4 linked regions of the Homo sapiens genome follow. The protein of the gene in region 1 interacts with the protein of each later gene in a pairwise test. Each region holds a gene or a part of one and is shown in the gene's direction. Other genes may lie near its edges.

Evidence for each region.
Region 2: the proteins of RALYL (region 1) and ADISSP interact in a two-hybrid assay, tested with the Homo sapiens proteins (one large-scale study listed by BioGRID and IntAct).
Region 3: the proteins of RALYL (region 1) and AEBP2 interact in a two-hybrid assay, tested with the Homo sapiens proteins (one large-scale study listed by BioGRID and IntAct).
Region 4: the proteins of RALYL (region 1) and PSMF1 interact in a two-hybrid assay, tested with the Homo sapiens proteins (one large-scale study listed by BioGRID and IntAct).

The regions. Positions count from the first base shown.
Region 1 is NC_000008.11:84,532,712-84,536,275, forward strand, and holds part of RALYL (RNA-binding Raly-like protein), read left to right. Parts: intron 1-3,564.
Region 2 is NC_000020.11:3,764,935-3,769,223, reverse strand, and holds the start of ADISSP (adipose-secreted signaling protein), read left to right. Parts: upstream 1-1,470; 5' UTR 1,471-1,561; exon of another isoform or gene 1,562-2,015; intron 2,016-4,289. UniProt on the Homo sapiens protein: Adipocyte-secreted protein (adipokine) that acts as a key regulator for white adipose tissue (WAT) thermogenesis and glucose homeostasis at least in part through activation of protein kinase A (PKA).
Region 3 is NC_000012.12:19,459,941-19,463,504, forward strand, and holds part of AEBP2 (zinc finger protein AEBP2), read left to right. Parts: intron 1-2,569; coding exon 2,570-2,777; intron 2,778-3,564. UniProt on the Homo sapiens protein: Acts as an accessory subunit for the core Polycomb repressive complex 2 (PRC2), which mediates histone H3K27 (H3K27me3) trimethylation on chromatin leading to transcriptional repression of the affected target gene.
Region 4 is NC_000020.11:1,117,124-1,121,405, forward strand, and holds the start of PSMF1 (proteasome inhibitor PI31 subunit), read left to right. Parts: upstream 1-1,478; 5' UTR 1,479-1,650; coding exon 1,651-1,779; intron 1,780-4,282. UniProt on the Homo sapiens protein: Plays an important role in control of proteasome function. Inhibits the hydrolysis of protein and peptide substrates by the 20S proteasome. Also inhibits the activation of the proteasome by the proteasome regulatory proteins PA700 and PA28.

The DNA.
Region 1 (3,564 bases):
AAAGGAACAATCTTTTATTTACTGCATGTTTAAAATATTTATATATGATTTAGAGATTAAAAATTAAACATCAGTAGTACCAGGAAAAATTAAACACTCTAATGTCAGTTCTTAAAGTTTTATGAAGACTATAGATAACTTGGCCATAATTTAATTTACTTTCTTATACATTTCCAGTTGTTTGGCACGTCTTTCGCACCATGATAGAGGGTATCCATGTTTATTCTTAGCTTCTGTCTTTGATATATAATAGAAGACTGCTAAAACCTCTGTGGAAAAACAAAAAAGATTGCATTTTGACTCATATTACTTAGGGATTCCTAAAATGTCAGAATCTATCTATGAAATTATTCATTATTCAGAATTTTTTTAAATCACAATTCCTATAATGTAAAAATCCTCATAAAACTTTACGTCTATATTTGGTTATTTAATTGATTTTAATACAATTTAAATATAAGCAGGTGAAATTTAACATATCCTCTTAATATTTAATTGAGTTTGAATTCTAAGTTTGTTAATATTGGAAATATTTATTGCATTTTTCAATCTAAGTGTAGTCATTAGAACTTTTTTCCTCAAACACATTATATGCGAGATAAAAACATTTTAAATGCTTAATAGAGACAATTTTTATGAGTAGTCACATACGAAGTGTCCTTTTACACAAAATGTTATGCAGAGGTTAGAGACTAAGACTAGACAGTGCCAATTTTATGTATCTATTGATTACATTGGCTTGATTACAGACATGCTATAAATAAACATTTGCAATGTCTTTCTTTATATTCGGATTATTTTACTGTTACAATGCTTGTAAAAGATACAATTTATGAACTTGAGAAGCCAGCTGTGGATAGTAGGAGGAACCAAACACTGAAAAATAATTTATCTAGAGCAATCATTTTTGTTCTGAAACCCATATGCAGGCCCCTGTCCTTAAGAAGCAAAGTGTGCTTTAGGAAAAGAATATATAAAGCAGAGAATTAAATTAATTGTATCACATTGTAAGTGTCTTGCAAATGCAGAAAGAATTCAAAGTGGGAACATGATGAATAGGGATGGTAAATTTTAAAGTAAATATGGTGAATATACTTAACTAGATCCTGAAGGAAGTAATGGAATTGTCTTAGTAGAGAGGAAGATGTTTGAGAGAGATATAAGAACAAAGAAGAGAACATTCAAATGCTTGTAACAATTCCCGTCAAGCATGTGCTGAGAGCAATGGATTTCAAATGTCTTTTCATCCCCAACTGTTTTGCATCCAGAGTGATCTTTTCAAAATGCAAATCTAATCATGTCACTGTCTTTTAAAACTTTCAGGGATTTCTCATTGTTCTCAGAAAAAAGAATGAAACCTTTGCTGTGGGCTACAAGTTTCTACCTCATTTGTTTCTTTGTCACCTGCAGACTCACATCATAGCCCCATCAGCCTTGCTTAGAGCTACAACTACATTCACTTCTTTCAGTTCTTTGAACAACTTGTGTTCTATCGCCCAACAGGGCCTGTGCACATGCTATCTTGACTGCTCAGAAAGTTCTTCCCTATGAAGCTCTGCACCACCTCACCCTACTTCCCCACTTAATCCCTTTTGCCTGGCTAATCATTCTTCAGATCTCAAATGAAATTTCAGTACTTTAGTGAAACCTACTTGTGTCCCTCAAAGCTAGCTGGAGTGTTTTACTTCACTTTCTAGCAAGTATCTTCTTTTCAATTGTATTTTTATATTTATTATTTTGTAATTGATATCTGTCCCTTCTCCCTCTAAGCTATAAGTTTTTTAGGGCACGGAATATATATGTTTTTACTCATCTTCTTAGCACCTAACAAAATGCTAACACTTCCATGGCAAATGCTCAGTGAGGATGTACTGGATGAATGATTGGATAGATGGTTAGTAGGAGGAATGGATGGACTTGGCTAAAGGGGTCCCTCACATGGAAAAGAGCACCACAGGAAGAAGACAAAGAAGCAGGAGGAGGAGAAATAAGAAGAGAACAGGGAGAAGAAGGAAGGAGAAGTGGCAATTACAAGTTCCCCAGAAAGTGAGGCGATATAGTTGGGGTTGCTGCTAAGCGAAGGCAAAGTGATCATGATCAGCTTGCTAAGGAGACTAGGTATTTAATCTTGAAATTCTTCAACAGACATTCCAAAGGTAACTGTTTCGTAGGCCTGATTTCAGTTTTTTATAAATATAATCCAATCTTTAATAAGCATGAAATATTAACACATATATACTTTATTCAAAAGTTAGAGTGAAGGATATATTGGTTTGAAGAAAGATTTCTATTCATGAAAAACTTCCTACACATTCCTTAAAATGTCATCCTTTCATAGTTTTCTCTTATTAATAGCTGGATATTTGCATGGCACTTCATCATTGTCAAAGTTCTTTCATGCACATATTATCTTCTTTGATTTTCACAACAATGCCAATAAATAATATTAGTATTTACGCCCATTCTGCTGGTTAGGAGCCAAAGCACAGAGAAATGAACTTAGTCTATATCACACAAATGGTGGTGCAAGATTGTTGGCTCACATTTTCTGACCGTAATTATTTTTACTATTTCTCTTTCCAGAAATTTATTCCATTTCAGCAGAGTGATCATCAACTCTGTCATCCAAACAGTAATACTTTTGAGAGTAAAAAGTTACTCTCATTGATTTTGCTTTGTTTGTGGAGCCTGTCCTGTGCATGGTAGGATGTTAGTAGCATCCCTGCCTTTTTTTTTTTTTTTGAGACGGAGTCTCGCTCTGTCGCCCAGGCTGGAGTGCAGTGGCGCTGTCTCGGCTCACTGCAAGCTCCGCCTCCTGGGTTCACGCCATTCTCCTGCCTCAGCCTCCTGAGTAGCTGGAGCTACAGGTGCCTGCCACCACGCCCGGCTAATTATTTTATTTTATTTTATTTTATTTTATTTTATTTTATTTTTTGTATTTTTAGTAGAGATGGGTTTTTCACCGTGTTAGCCAGGACGGTCTTGATCTCCTGGCCTCGTGATCCGCCCACCTCGGCCTCCCAAAGTGCTGGATTACAGGCGTGAGCCACCGCGCCCGGCCGCATCCCTGACTTCTACCTGCAAGATACCTATAGTACCCCTTCCAAATAGTGACAGCCAAAAATTGTCTCCATGTTACCAAATGTCTCCTGGGAGGCAAAATCACTCCAGTTAAGAATTACTGTTGTAGGGTAATCATACCAAAATAAACTCCATTAATTTTCAGAATTGTTCTAATGGTCTTAGGATAAACTATATTAAAACAATGCTTTGAATTATTTTGACAGTAACTCATAATTTATAATAAGAATGTATCTTTTCCAATTGTTCAGGAAATAAAACTCAGTAAGTGCGTTTCAGGGCAATTTTAATGTATTCATGACCATAGCTTACCCACTTATATCACCAGTTTGTTACAAAGCCTTCTGTCTCTTCACATCTTTAATACACTGACTTTTAGAGGTGTGATTTTTCTCCGTTAGATCCCTCCATTCAAACATGTCTAATCGCCACTAGAAATGATGAAGAAAAAGAAAGTATCATGGAAGAGTTAAGTGAAAAATA
Region 2 (4,289 bases), on another chromosome or scaffold:
GATATTTCAAAAGCCACGAAACCAGATTCCTGATTCCAGAAAGAGGCGGAGGAGGCAGGAGGGGGAAGGACTTCTTTTAAAAAGCCCCATGTGAGCTAAACAAAATACACCTACGGGCCACTTTGGGCCCACCGTCTGCCAACTTTAGACTTTCAAGACAAGGTCTAAAGGTAGTGTGGTGGGAGTGGGTAGAGTGGGCAGGAGTGGATGGGCTGAGATCAGAATGTGAAAAGCTCTCAATGTAAGCGCTGTCTCTCAAACGCGAGGGCACATGAGTCACCCAAAGTGCTGCTGAAGTTTGTGAAGCGCTACTGGAGGCAGTCCCAGAGGGCTTTGGAGCAGGAGAGGGACGCGATGAAAACAAGAGCTCAGAAAGATTAATTTGCCAACAGTGTGCAGACTGGAGATCAGCAGACAGGTTATGGGCCACAGGGTGGCAGACTTGAGGGCTCCTTTAAGGCAGCGACCCCGGCCCTGCTGAAGGGAGGCTGGCCTTCGGCCGCCCAGGCCGTCTCTCTAGTTCCGTTGGAAGCAAGGCGCTGCGTGCTCCGGACGGCTTACTGAGGGCACTTTGGGGAATCCGTCCCCACGGGCGAAGTATAGGTGGGGTGTTCGCGAACCGGCGGGCGGAGAGCACCGGCAAGAACCCCCGCAGACCGGAGGGCCACGCCTCTCGCTCCTCGGCTCATTGCAGGCGCCCACATCCCACCCCGCGGTGCTGAGCGAGGCGCATCTCGCTGCCATGGCGACCGCCTCCATGGAGACCGGGAGCAGAGGCTGCGGTCCCCGGGGGCGCGTCACAGGCTCTCCCAGCCCCCAGCCCGCGTGCCTTCTTTGTTCTGATGCTTCTCCAGGCCGGGCCAGGCACCCGGGACGCGTCTCGGGCCCGCACGGGGGTTGCTTCTTTCGAGACAGGGGATGGGGTGGAAGGGGAAGAGGTCCAAACCCTGGGGTCGAAACAGGAGTGATGGAGGGTTCCTCAGCTCCTGAACGAGACCAACACGGCCCGTATCGATGGCCGAAGCCGGCGTGGAAGCCCAGGGAGAAAGGCCACCTTCGGGAGCTCCACCCAGCCCCGAGACGCGCCCGACAGCCCTCCCGAGAGCGAAGGGCCCAAGGGAGGTGCGTCCTAAGCAAGGTTCAAGGCTAGAGGCGCTATCCCCCAGGCGGAAGAAGGAGCGGGGGCGGGGCCTATCCGAGGCCCTCCTTCTCCCTCTTCGAGTGGTCGGTTCTGGCCCCTGGCCTAGTTGGGCCGCCTGCCCGTCTTCCTCGCGAGAGCTCGCCCGGCAGGCGCGGACTAGCAGGGCGCTGCCTCGGCGACCCTGGCACGTGACGTAGGCGGCCCTCGCCAGTTGGCCGTTCTTTGGAGCCCGCTCATTGGTCCGGAGCGTCCCTCGCCCCACCCTCCCAGATCAACCAATGGGCGGAGGCGGGGGCGTGCCGACGGGAGGGCGGCCGCGGCGCGGGGCTCCCTTCCTCGTGCTCGGCGTTGAGCTCCTGCAGCCGCCGCCGCTGCAGTGGTCGTCCCTGCCCTCCCCGGCCCCGGGGTGCACCCCGCAAGGTGAGGCCACCCCTCTGCTCCCTGCCTCCCGGTTCCTTCCCGTTCGCCGAGGTCCCCTCCCGGTCCCGGCCCTGTCCTGAGCAGTCAGTGCCTGGGACCCCAGCGGCCGTGATGGCAGGGCTGGGGTGGGGGGCTCCGCTGTCGGGGCCGGGCCTGGAGGACTCCCCAGCACCTGAACTAGAGTGATGTCAGGTTCCCGGGGCGCAGTGACCGTTAGCTGGTGCAGCTGGGGTGTTTTCCGCGAAGCGATTGTCCGGGGGCATGAGTGCGGTAGTGAGGGCGGGGGCGTAATGGGGTCAGCGCCCCCTCCTCCCCACGACCCTGTTCATTGCCGCTGCCTCGCTGCATGACCTTGGACCAGTAGCATCTCTGAGCCTCCGAGCCTCAGCACCCTCAGGAAGGAGGGCAGTGATGTCTGGGAGTGCGGGCTCCGGAGACTCCTGCGTCAGCCGAGGTGAGTGAAGGTGGGGAGTGCACAGGATTATCTCCGAGGGACAGAGCCGCCGCCTCGCAGCTCAGGATGGATTGGATGGGGGGGATGTCCGATTACATTTCCCCCCTCCCCCTGAGATGACAAGAATGGGGTGTGGCGGGGGTGCCACACCCACAGGGATGGCTGCCGGAGAGGATAAAGGGTCCTACACCTGGACCCTTGGGGCCTCGGGGGCTTGGGCTGCACCTCCCTCCCGGTGGTATGAAGGAGGAGGGACTGGATTTAGGTTCTGGACCCGTGTTTCCATTAGTAAGCAGGGACTGAGAAAGGGAAGTCTCCGCTTGCCTTTCTTCTTGAATCTTGGCACTGGAAAGTGGAGGTAGGGCATTTTTCTGCTCCGGGGAGTTGAAGAAAGTCGGGGCAGCACCCCATCCCTCTCCCATTCTGGTCTTTTGTGGAGGGAAAATGTAGCTGGATATCCCCCCACATTCTATCCATCCTGAGCTACGAGGCAGCAGCCCTGTCCCTGGGAGATAATCCTGTGTGCTCCCACCCTCACCTTGGCTGACCCCCTGGATCCAGCCTGGCCTCTGCTTCTTGGGACCTCTGGATCACAGGCCCAGGGCAGGGCCTAGGTGGGGCATGCTATCTGGAGGCTAAGCACCCACTAGCTGAGGGCAAAGTGGGGAGAATGCTGGGCAGAGGAGGGCAGCACTTGTTGGGGAGGCAGGAAGGTGTGGGTGGTGAGGGTCCCTTCTCCATATTCCCCCACCCCCACCCCCAGCACCTCACTGTTAGAAGGAGAGAGAACAGCCATACTTATCTTTGCACCTTTGGCCCACTGGAGGGAGAAGGAAATTAAATCACATTAAAGCTGAGTTGATGTGAAGCTGCCACAACTACTGACCTCCAGCCTTGCCTTTCCAGGCTTTGTTCTGAGTATGTGTGGCCTCTGCTGTGTCCAGTCCTGAGAGTCAGCGGGTCAGTGTGGCCCCATCTCAAGGCCTCAATGGCTGTTCTTTTCACAGGCGTGAGCTTTAATGGGAGGCTACACAGTGCTTCTGCTGGACTGAGTGCTTGAGCCAGGACTGAGCCCCAGGCTGGGGTAGGAGAGGAAGAGGTAGGGAGGGTGGAAGGTTGCGGAGTTCCTGGCTCAGAGAGAAAGACCTCGAACCACAATGAGAATGGGGACTGAAGAAGGAATGAGAAATGAGGTCTCAGACGTTGGGAGCATGCTGACCAGAGGTGAATGGGTGTAGCTCCTCTTCCTGCACCCTGGGCTGGGGCCTGGAAGCTTGCTGACACTCCATCTCATGGGGAAGGGTATAATTTTTTTTGCTGGCGGGGAGGCACCATGTTCCTCCCTAGTCATTTCCCAGTTTCCCAGGATGTTCATTCTGCACATCTTCCTTGTGACCCCCTCTGGTTAGGGGGACTGGAAACTCCCAGCATCTGTTCTCTGACCCTCCCTAGGGACCTGGCTGCTTTGGGAGTGGGAGAAGGGGGAGGCAGGAGGAGGGAGGCCCCCTCACCCCTTGAGCTGTTTTCCAAGAAGGCTGACGTCCCTGGGGCCCACTCTAAGGGTCACTCCTGGCTCCTCCAGGATTGGCCTGAAGTGCCTCTCTGACGGTGCTGCTGAAACTGCTGTTGCTTTAGAAACCAGGCCTTTGGGGGTTTGCTTTTGCAGAGATGGGGGGTGCATTGTCACAGAGCTTCAGGCACAGTTGCAGCAAACCCTGGAAGGAAGAGGCCACTGCTTATTCCTGTGTTACACATTAGGAAACAGGGACAGAGAAGTGAAAGAACTCACCCATGCAGCTAGCAAGGGCAGATCCTGAATTTGAACCAGGACTGCTGCCTCTGGGGGCCATGTGGATTGAGCCATGGTGAGGCCTTGGTTGGCACAGGAGGAGGCTGGAGGCAGGGCCAGGCTTGGGGTTGTGTGGTGGCCTAGCTGTTCTCTGTGGACACAGCTGCAGCAGGGGAGGCCCAGTGCCCTCTTTGCCTGTTTCTGATGAGGAATTGTGTGTGCACAAGAGTCTAGCTCCCCGAGGACAGCGACCAGCAGGTTCTCCATTGAGAAAGGAGGTTTGGTTTTCCCAGTTTCCTTTGGGTTCCTGAAGTCCCTTGCTTCCTGCCTCTATGTTGTCACTATCCAGAGGGTTACAGGCCCTCAGTGTTTGCCCTTTACTGAGTACTGGCACTGCATGAGATGTGGGTCCTACCCTCAGTGGGCATGGGGCATGTCCCTCTCAAAGCAGGCATGGACAGGTAACCAGCTGACTGCAGCAAGGC
Region 3 (3,564 bases), on another chromosome or scaffold:
GCTCGGTGCAGTGGCTAATGCCTGTAGTCCCAGTACTTTGGGAGGCCAAGGCAGGAGGATTGCTTGAGCCCAGCCTGGACAACATAAAGAGACCTCATCTCTACAGAAATTTAAAAAATTTAGTTGGCCATAGTGGTGCACACCTGTAGGCCCGGCTACTCAGGAGGCTGAGGTGGGAGGATCACTTGAGCCTGGTAGGTCAAGGCTGCAATGAGCCGTGATAGCACCACCGCACTATAGGCTTGGCAACGGAGTGAAGACCCTGTCTTAACATCCCCCCACCCCTCACAATAGGTACATTTGATGTTAGACACAGATCATTATAAAGCTTACTTAAGCTAACAAAATTCATGTAAATTTTCTCAGGTGTGAGTGAATAGGTTGTATTGGTATATAGGTGAACGTTCTTTTTGTTTTTTGAGACAGAGTCTCGCTCTGTCGCCCAGGCTCGAGTGCAGTGGCGTTACCTTGGCTCACTGCAACCTCCTACTGCAACCTCCTCCTCCCAGGTTCAAGCAATTCTCTGTCTCAGCCTCCCGAGTAGCTGGGATTACAGGCGTGTGCCACCATGCCCAGCTGATTTTTGTATTTTTAGTAGAGATGTGGTTTCACCATCTTGATCAGGCTGGTCTTGAACTCCTGACCTTGTGATCCACCCACCTCGGCCTCCCAGAGTGCTGGGATTATAGGCGTGAGCCACCACGCCCGGCCTGAAAGTTTTTTTTTTTTTTTGAGACAGAGTCTAGCTCTGTCGCCCAGGTTGGAGTCCAGTGCCGCTATCTCTGCTCACAGCAGTCTCCGCCTCCTGGGTTCACACCATTCTCCTGCCTCAGTCTCCCGAGTAGCTGGGACTGCAGGCGCACACTACCATGCCTGGCTAATTTTTTATATTTTTAGTAGAGACAGGGTTTCACCATGTTAGCCAGGATGGTCTCGATCTCCTGATCTTGTGATCTGCCTGCTGCGGCCTCCCAAAGTGCTGCGATTACAGGCATGCGCCACTGTGCCCGGCCTGAATGTTCTTTTTTTTTAAGAAGGTATATACTGTGGTTGATTGTCATGATGCCTGCAATTTTAAAATGATTCAGAGAAACAGATTACAGATAGCAAATAGGGTAAAATGTTAATTGAATTCAGATTTAGCTGTATTTTGTGTCTTTGAACTTTTCCATGATAAAAACTTGGCGGGAGGGAAACATACCTCTTTAAAGTTAATATAATTTTCACAACTTGACTTGTGTTGTTTCTTAAATTGCAAGCAGATACACACCTTTTCATAGATTTAATCTGAAAACATTCTTTCTCTTGACCCTTATGATTGAAGTGACTTTCATGTAATTTATTTATTGAGAAGATTTTGAAAAAAGAAAATAAGTGAATTGCTTTTAAAATGAAGGCGGAAGTGTGATACATTTTATTAAGATGTGAATTTTTGAGCATTTTGACCACTAGTATATACTTTTTTTAGTAAATAAAAGAGTTACTACTGTGTAATACTTTATTTTATTTTTTGAGATGGTGTTTTGCTCTTGTTGACCAGGCTGGAGTGCAATGGCGTGATACTTTATTTTATTTTATTTTATTTTTTGAGACGGAGTTTTGCTCGTTGACCAGGTTGGAGTGCAATGGTGCGATCTCGGCTCACTCCAACCTCCGCCTCCTGGGTTCAAGAGATTCTCCTGCCTCAGCCTCCTGAGTAGCTGGGATTACAGGCACCTGCCACCACACCCGGATAATTTTTTGTATTTTTAGTAGCAGTGGGATTTCACCATGTTGGCCAGGCTGGTTTCAAACTCCTGGCATCAGGTAGTCCACCCGCCTCGGCCTCCCAAAGTGCTGGAATTACAGGAGTGAGCCACTGCGTCCAGCCATATGTAATACTTTAGTAAATAAAAAGTAAAAGGGATTGATTGGCATTTTCAGTCTTTTTTTTTATGGCTAGAGATGAGTTAAAAAAATAAAATTTTAGGGCTAGGAAAAGATTTTTTATTTGGACTTTAGAAAAATCAGAGACCAGTTTTCTCTCTTCTGCTTTTTTATTTAGCTGGGAAAATACTGCAAAATTTCCCCAATTCTTTGACATGAAAAGAAGTAGGATGTGGCAGCAGTTATATTTTCAGATTAATGAATAGAAGAGATTTCAGGTCAACAAGTGATTTGCAGAGCTATAAAGATAATGCTTTGATTGTGAATTATTTACAGCTGGAAACTCTTACTTTCTTATGCTTCTTTGAACTGTAGAAGGGATGAGATGTGATAAGCTGTGTGTGTGGGGGTGTGGGTGTGGTTTGTTTTCTGTAAGATGTAGTATTGAGTTCATGCCTGCCAAAAGTTGCTTAAATTATTCCATTTCTGATTTTGAGGTACTGTCGTGTTTCTGTCTTGATTTGTACTTCATTGCCAACTAATTAATTTAAAAGCATTGTTGTTTTCTCATGGAGAATATGGTTACTATGCTTTGTTCACATGGAGCAGAATGTCAAGTGGTAATCTTAATTAAATATTTATAAGATCATATTCATGTTAGTGAATTTCTAGGAATAACACAGCCTTTTTTCTTCTTTTGTAGCATAAGCAGTACTATAATGGATGTAGACAGCACAATTTCCAGTGGGCGTTCAACTCCAGCAATGATGAATGGACAAGGAAGCACTACTTCTTCAAGCAAAAATATTGCCTATAATTGTTGTTGGGACCAGTGCCAGGCTTGCTTCAACTCTAGCCCAGATCTGGCAGATCACATCCGTTCCATACATGTAGATGGTCAGCGAGGAGGGGTTGGTTTTGTCATTTCTTTTTTTCGCTCCCTGTTTTCGTTAGTTTTATTAATTTATAATTGCTAGTTAGGCTTTTTTGCTGAAAGTAATTTGGGATTATTTTTACACAGGCTTAGTTTTTTCAAGTGAATTTTTAATAATTATTTCCCATATACTTGATAGAATCAAATAAAAATAGGGTATGTGCTGGATTTTAGTTTGTTTTTAGATACGTTATTTTGAAGAAATTAGACTTTTAAAAGTATAGTAGGTGACAGTATTATTAATGAATACAGTGTATTCCAGGGTTCTGATGTTTTGAGTTGAGAACATTTAGAATTAGCACTTTCTTGATTTTCCTTTGTTAGAGGATCCTAAATTATTCCTGACGCTTAAATTAACTGGGGAGACTATTGGTACCAGGATTAGTGTATGCAATTCTATTAAATAACAACCTGAACTCATTATTTGTGAGTGAGAATTGATCATCTTTCCCAGGTCTTGTCAGAGCTGATTTAGATGGAAAGTTCTGATTAGTTAGTATTGACCTATATGTCCTTTCAGGAATACATTTAATTGTGTCAGTTCATGTAACTTCTATTAGGTACTGAATAAAGAGCTAAGCAAATTGGGTAAGCCAAAAGTAATGTGCCAAAATATTAATTTATACATTGTTTCAACTTTACCTAGAATTTTGTTGAATAGTTATCACACTTAGTGCATTTTTCAGAAATTAATGTCACAGTGTAAGGGCAGGTAATTTATTAATATTAGGCCACACATTTCCTATCAGCCTGGCATCACTATT
Region 4 (4,282 bases), on another chromosome or scaffold:
AGATGTGAGAGAAGAGGGGGAGCCAAGGTTATTGCACGTATAAAGGGGATGAGAGGACAGTTGAAGGAGACTGAATCAGAGAGGTACAGGGCTGGCAGGGCTGGGGCAGGAGATGGCAGACCACATGCAGATTCCTGCAGACCATGGGGAGGACTTTACTTTTCCATTGAGTGTGACGATTTTGAGCCAACGGATGTGATCTGACTTTTCTTTTTTTTTTTTTTTCTTTTTTGAGACAGAAGATCGCTCTGTTGCCCAGGCTGAAGTGCAATGGTGCGATCTTGGCTCACTGCAACCTCCACCTCCACCTCCCGGGTTCGATTGATTCTCATGCCTCAGCCTCCCGAGTACCTGGGACTAAAGGCGTGCGCCACCACACCCAGCTAATTTTTGTATTTTTAGTAGAGACAGGGTTTCACCATGTTGGCCAGGCTGGTCTCAAACTCCTGACCTCAAGTGATCCGCCTGCCTCGGCCTCACAAAGTGCTGGGATTACAGGCATGAGCCGCCACACCTGGCCGATCTGACTTGTTTTCTAACAGAATCTCTCTGGTTGCGGAGTGCAGTACAGACTAGAGAGAGACAGGAATGGAATGGGGCAGTTCTGAGGCTGATGCCAGGCATCCAAGTGAAAGATGACAGGAGCTTGAACCAGGTTAGTGACTGGGATGGGGAAACTAAATTTATTTGGGTAAAAACAATAAGTGGATTTCATGAAACTTGTTGAAGTAACGGGTGGTAAAAATCATAAAGGGGGTAGGCAAATAAATGATTGAAATTTGATAGTGGGTCAGGAGCTTCAGCTCTGCGGGCAGCAGTTGTGTCTCCTTGGAGAAGTGGTTTCAACTCTGAGCCGTTTTGTCATCTGCAAAATGGGGATAATAACGGTCCATACTTCATAGAGTTGTTGAGAGGGTGATGTAAAGGTTTTAGCGCACGATGTAGCACACAATAAACACTTAATAAATGTTATCTTAGAAGCCAGACTGCCAGGTTCCCATAACCATTTCAGCCGTTCACCGGCTGGCTGTTGTCATCTTGGTCAAATTATCCCTCTGCGCCTCAGTTTCCTCATCTGTGCAATGAGGCACATTAATCGTTAATATCAACTGCATAGAGTTGGGTTGTGAAGATTAAATAAATGAATACAAGTAAAGCGTTTAGAATAATGTGGACGGTAGCAAGCACGGCGAACGTGTTAACGATTATTAAGAATGTATTTTAGCCACATTTCCCAGCCCCTTCCCCGGCCTAGCATACCCCATTTTGTGGATGGGAAGTCTGCCTCTCAGCAAGGTGGCCTCTTGGAGGACGCTGTGCCCGCGTCAGGCGATCCTGTCGACTGCCGCCAAGACCCGGCTTCCGGCTTTGAGGGGCCACGCCCCGCTCGCACTCCCTGGCGGAACCTTTCAGTGCTGCGCTCGCGTTGCCAACCCGGCGCGCCTCACGCAGTTGCGCCCGCTGTTGGGACTACTTCCGGCTTCCCCGCCCCGCCCCGTCCCCGGGCGTCTCCATTTTGGTCTCAGGTGTGGACTCGGCAAGAACCAGCGCAAGAGGGAAGCAGAGTTATAGCTACCCCGGCCGCGGAGCCGGCTCACTGCACTACCCCCGCCCCCTTCTTTCCTCCAGACGCCGAAGTCGCGGGCGCTCATGGCGGGCCTGGAGGTACTGTTCGCATCGGCAGCGCCGGCCATCACCTGCAGGCAGGACGCGCTCGTCTGCTTCTTGCATTGGGAAGTGGTGACACACGGTTACTTCGGCTTGGGTGTCGGTGACCAGGTACGCCACGGAGCCGGCCAGGGTGGAGGAGGGAACTGTCTTCTGCCCAAACTCAGAGTACCGGAGGCCTGGTCCAGAGCGCCCGATTTCCCCGCTTCTCCCAGTGCAGGGTCTGGGGCAGATGGCAGCGTTGGTAAAACCTGCGGGTCGGAGGTTGCTCACCTGCCCCATCCCAGCCCAGAGTCCCTCACGGCACAGCTGGCACAACATGATTTGTAAACTCAAGGGCGGACACTCGCTTCAACACAGCCTGGCAGCCTCTCAGGCCAGGACTGTGTGGATCTAGCATTCCATAGAATGGCAAAGAATCTAGACAGGAGTTTAGCTCCCCAGAGCACTTCTCACCCACCTGATCCCGTCTGAACTCCTTACCACCCAGCCTCGGGGTGAGGGGACTGACTCAGTTCCGCCCTCATACCACAGTAGAGCCTCCACCAAACATCTGGATCCAAGCACAGGTACAGGAGTGAGCTTTGACCTACTCAGCCCCAGGCCAGGGCCCTTTTTTCACCCGTTAGCATGGGCCCAGAGAGTTCACACGCCTTTCACCCTTTACTGAAGGGCCCAGCATAGTCCACTCGCTACTGCCATCCCCAACTCAAGCTCTAGGAAGCAATCACCCCCAGAGTCGTACACACATACACCCTGGGTGTGAGGGTCATATAAGATTTTCTCCTCATAGTTGTCCCCATAGGGCCAGCCCCTCTTCTCCCATCCCCAGGCTCCACCTCTTACAGCTAGGGACGTCGTTGTCATCCCCACAGAGTTCTAGGACTGCTGGACCCAACCCACCTCACTAATTCTTTGCTCTGGCATTCTTCTTTCTTTCCTGTCTCTTCCCTGTGACCCTCATCCCCAACATCCACATCATCCTAGACATCTGCTTCCTGGGAGAAGTGGGCCTGCCTCCATGCCTGCCCCTCACTGTCACTGTTCTCTCACTCTCAGAACCAAGACTAGCCATGGGAAACAGACCACCCCACCTATTGCATCTTGCCATGAGATTTCACCCTTCCTCTCCTTTTTGACTGCTTCAGTTCTCAACTCCTCTAATCATTTTTTTTAGCTTCTCAAATAGAGTCTTAATTCTCCCCTCCTGACATAGCTTTAGGGACCTCTCTTCAAACTTGCTTTGTACATTCTGAGCACTTAGACAAGTATCCCCTTTCCCCCACCCCTCACTGCTGTCCCTATTCCTCTCTGTCTCTTAGAACTAAAGACCAAGACCACCATACCCCTCTCACACTTTACCCCCTCCAGCAGGAATCAGAACACAAGAACCGTCAGGGATTTCTGGCTCTTTTTTTCCCCAGACCTCAATTATCTCACTGGGACCCCAGGTACACACTCAGGATCCCCATTCCCACCTCCAAACTCACACATACTTCATCTCTCAAATGGGCTCTAAGACTAGATATGAGGATGGAAAAGAACAGCTAGCCTTTCACACACACATACCTGGAAGCAGGAATCATTTCACCTTCCCAAACACATCTGTCCCTGACCTTTCTCTTTGTGCTGCTCTTCATTCCACATACCTTCCAAATGTCTTCCAGCATTTCAGACCTTGGGACCAGGTAGAGACAGCACCCCCATTTCAGCGTCAGGCCCCTCTTTCAATGCATAGTTCCCCTAACAGAAATCTTGTCTCCCCACTTGTCTTACTCCAGCTTTTTAATCTTAAGCAGCTCTTCACTTGCCCCAGTCATTTTATTTCAACTTTTCCTAGATTCTTCAAAGAAACTGGTATGTGGGATGGTGCAGGGGACAGTGGGGCTGAGAAGAGGAGTAAGATTTGATTTTGACCTGGGATCTCCTCCATTGGCCCTCAGCTCCCCCTGCCCTTTGTCTTGTCCTTCAGATGGAACAGCTCTGCTTTGCACTCTGTCCCTCCTCATGTACCTCACTCCCCTTACCTACTCCTAGCTAGCTACTTAGACTCTGCCACACTGTCAGAACCCCATCCACCTCTGCTGAGGAACTTGTTCTAGAGGGCGTGTCTGATACCCTTCTCTCCTTGCCATTCCACAAATAAATATCAATCACTGTGGATCTGCTCCTACATTTCTTACCCTCACTCATGCTGTCTGAATCACTTTGACAGTTTAGGGACATGAGTTCACATAAGTCGATACCTTCTAGCTGGCATTACCACCTTGCCATACACTCAAGGCTCCAAAATTTTCAGATGAAATGTACAGAAAGAATACAATCTCATTTTAATAGTTTTTTTTTTTTTTAAAAAGGTCCTTGACCAATTCCCCAAGGTCCATCTAATTTTTCTCTGTTCATGGTGCTATTCGTTGAGCTTCTGCAGGCCAGAAAAAGATGCTGGTTTCAGACATCTTTGGGGAGGCCCAGGAGCCTGGGGAATTAGGTTTTTGTAAGGCATTGCCACCTTTCCTCTATCTACCCCAGCACTAAATCTTGCATGCCCCCGAAGGAATGAGTGTTTGGATTGCAAACTAGAGTGTGGTGTATTTTTGCTTCTCTCTGCCTTTTC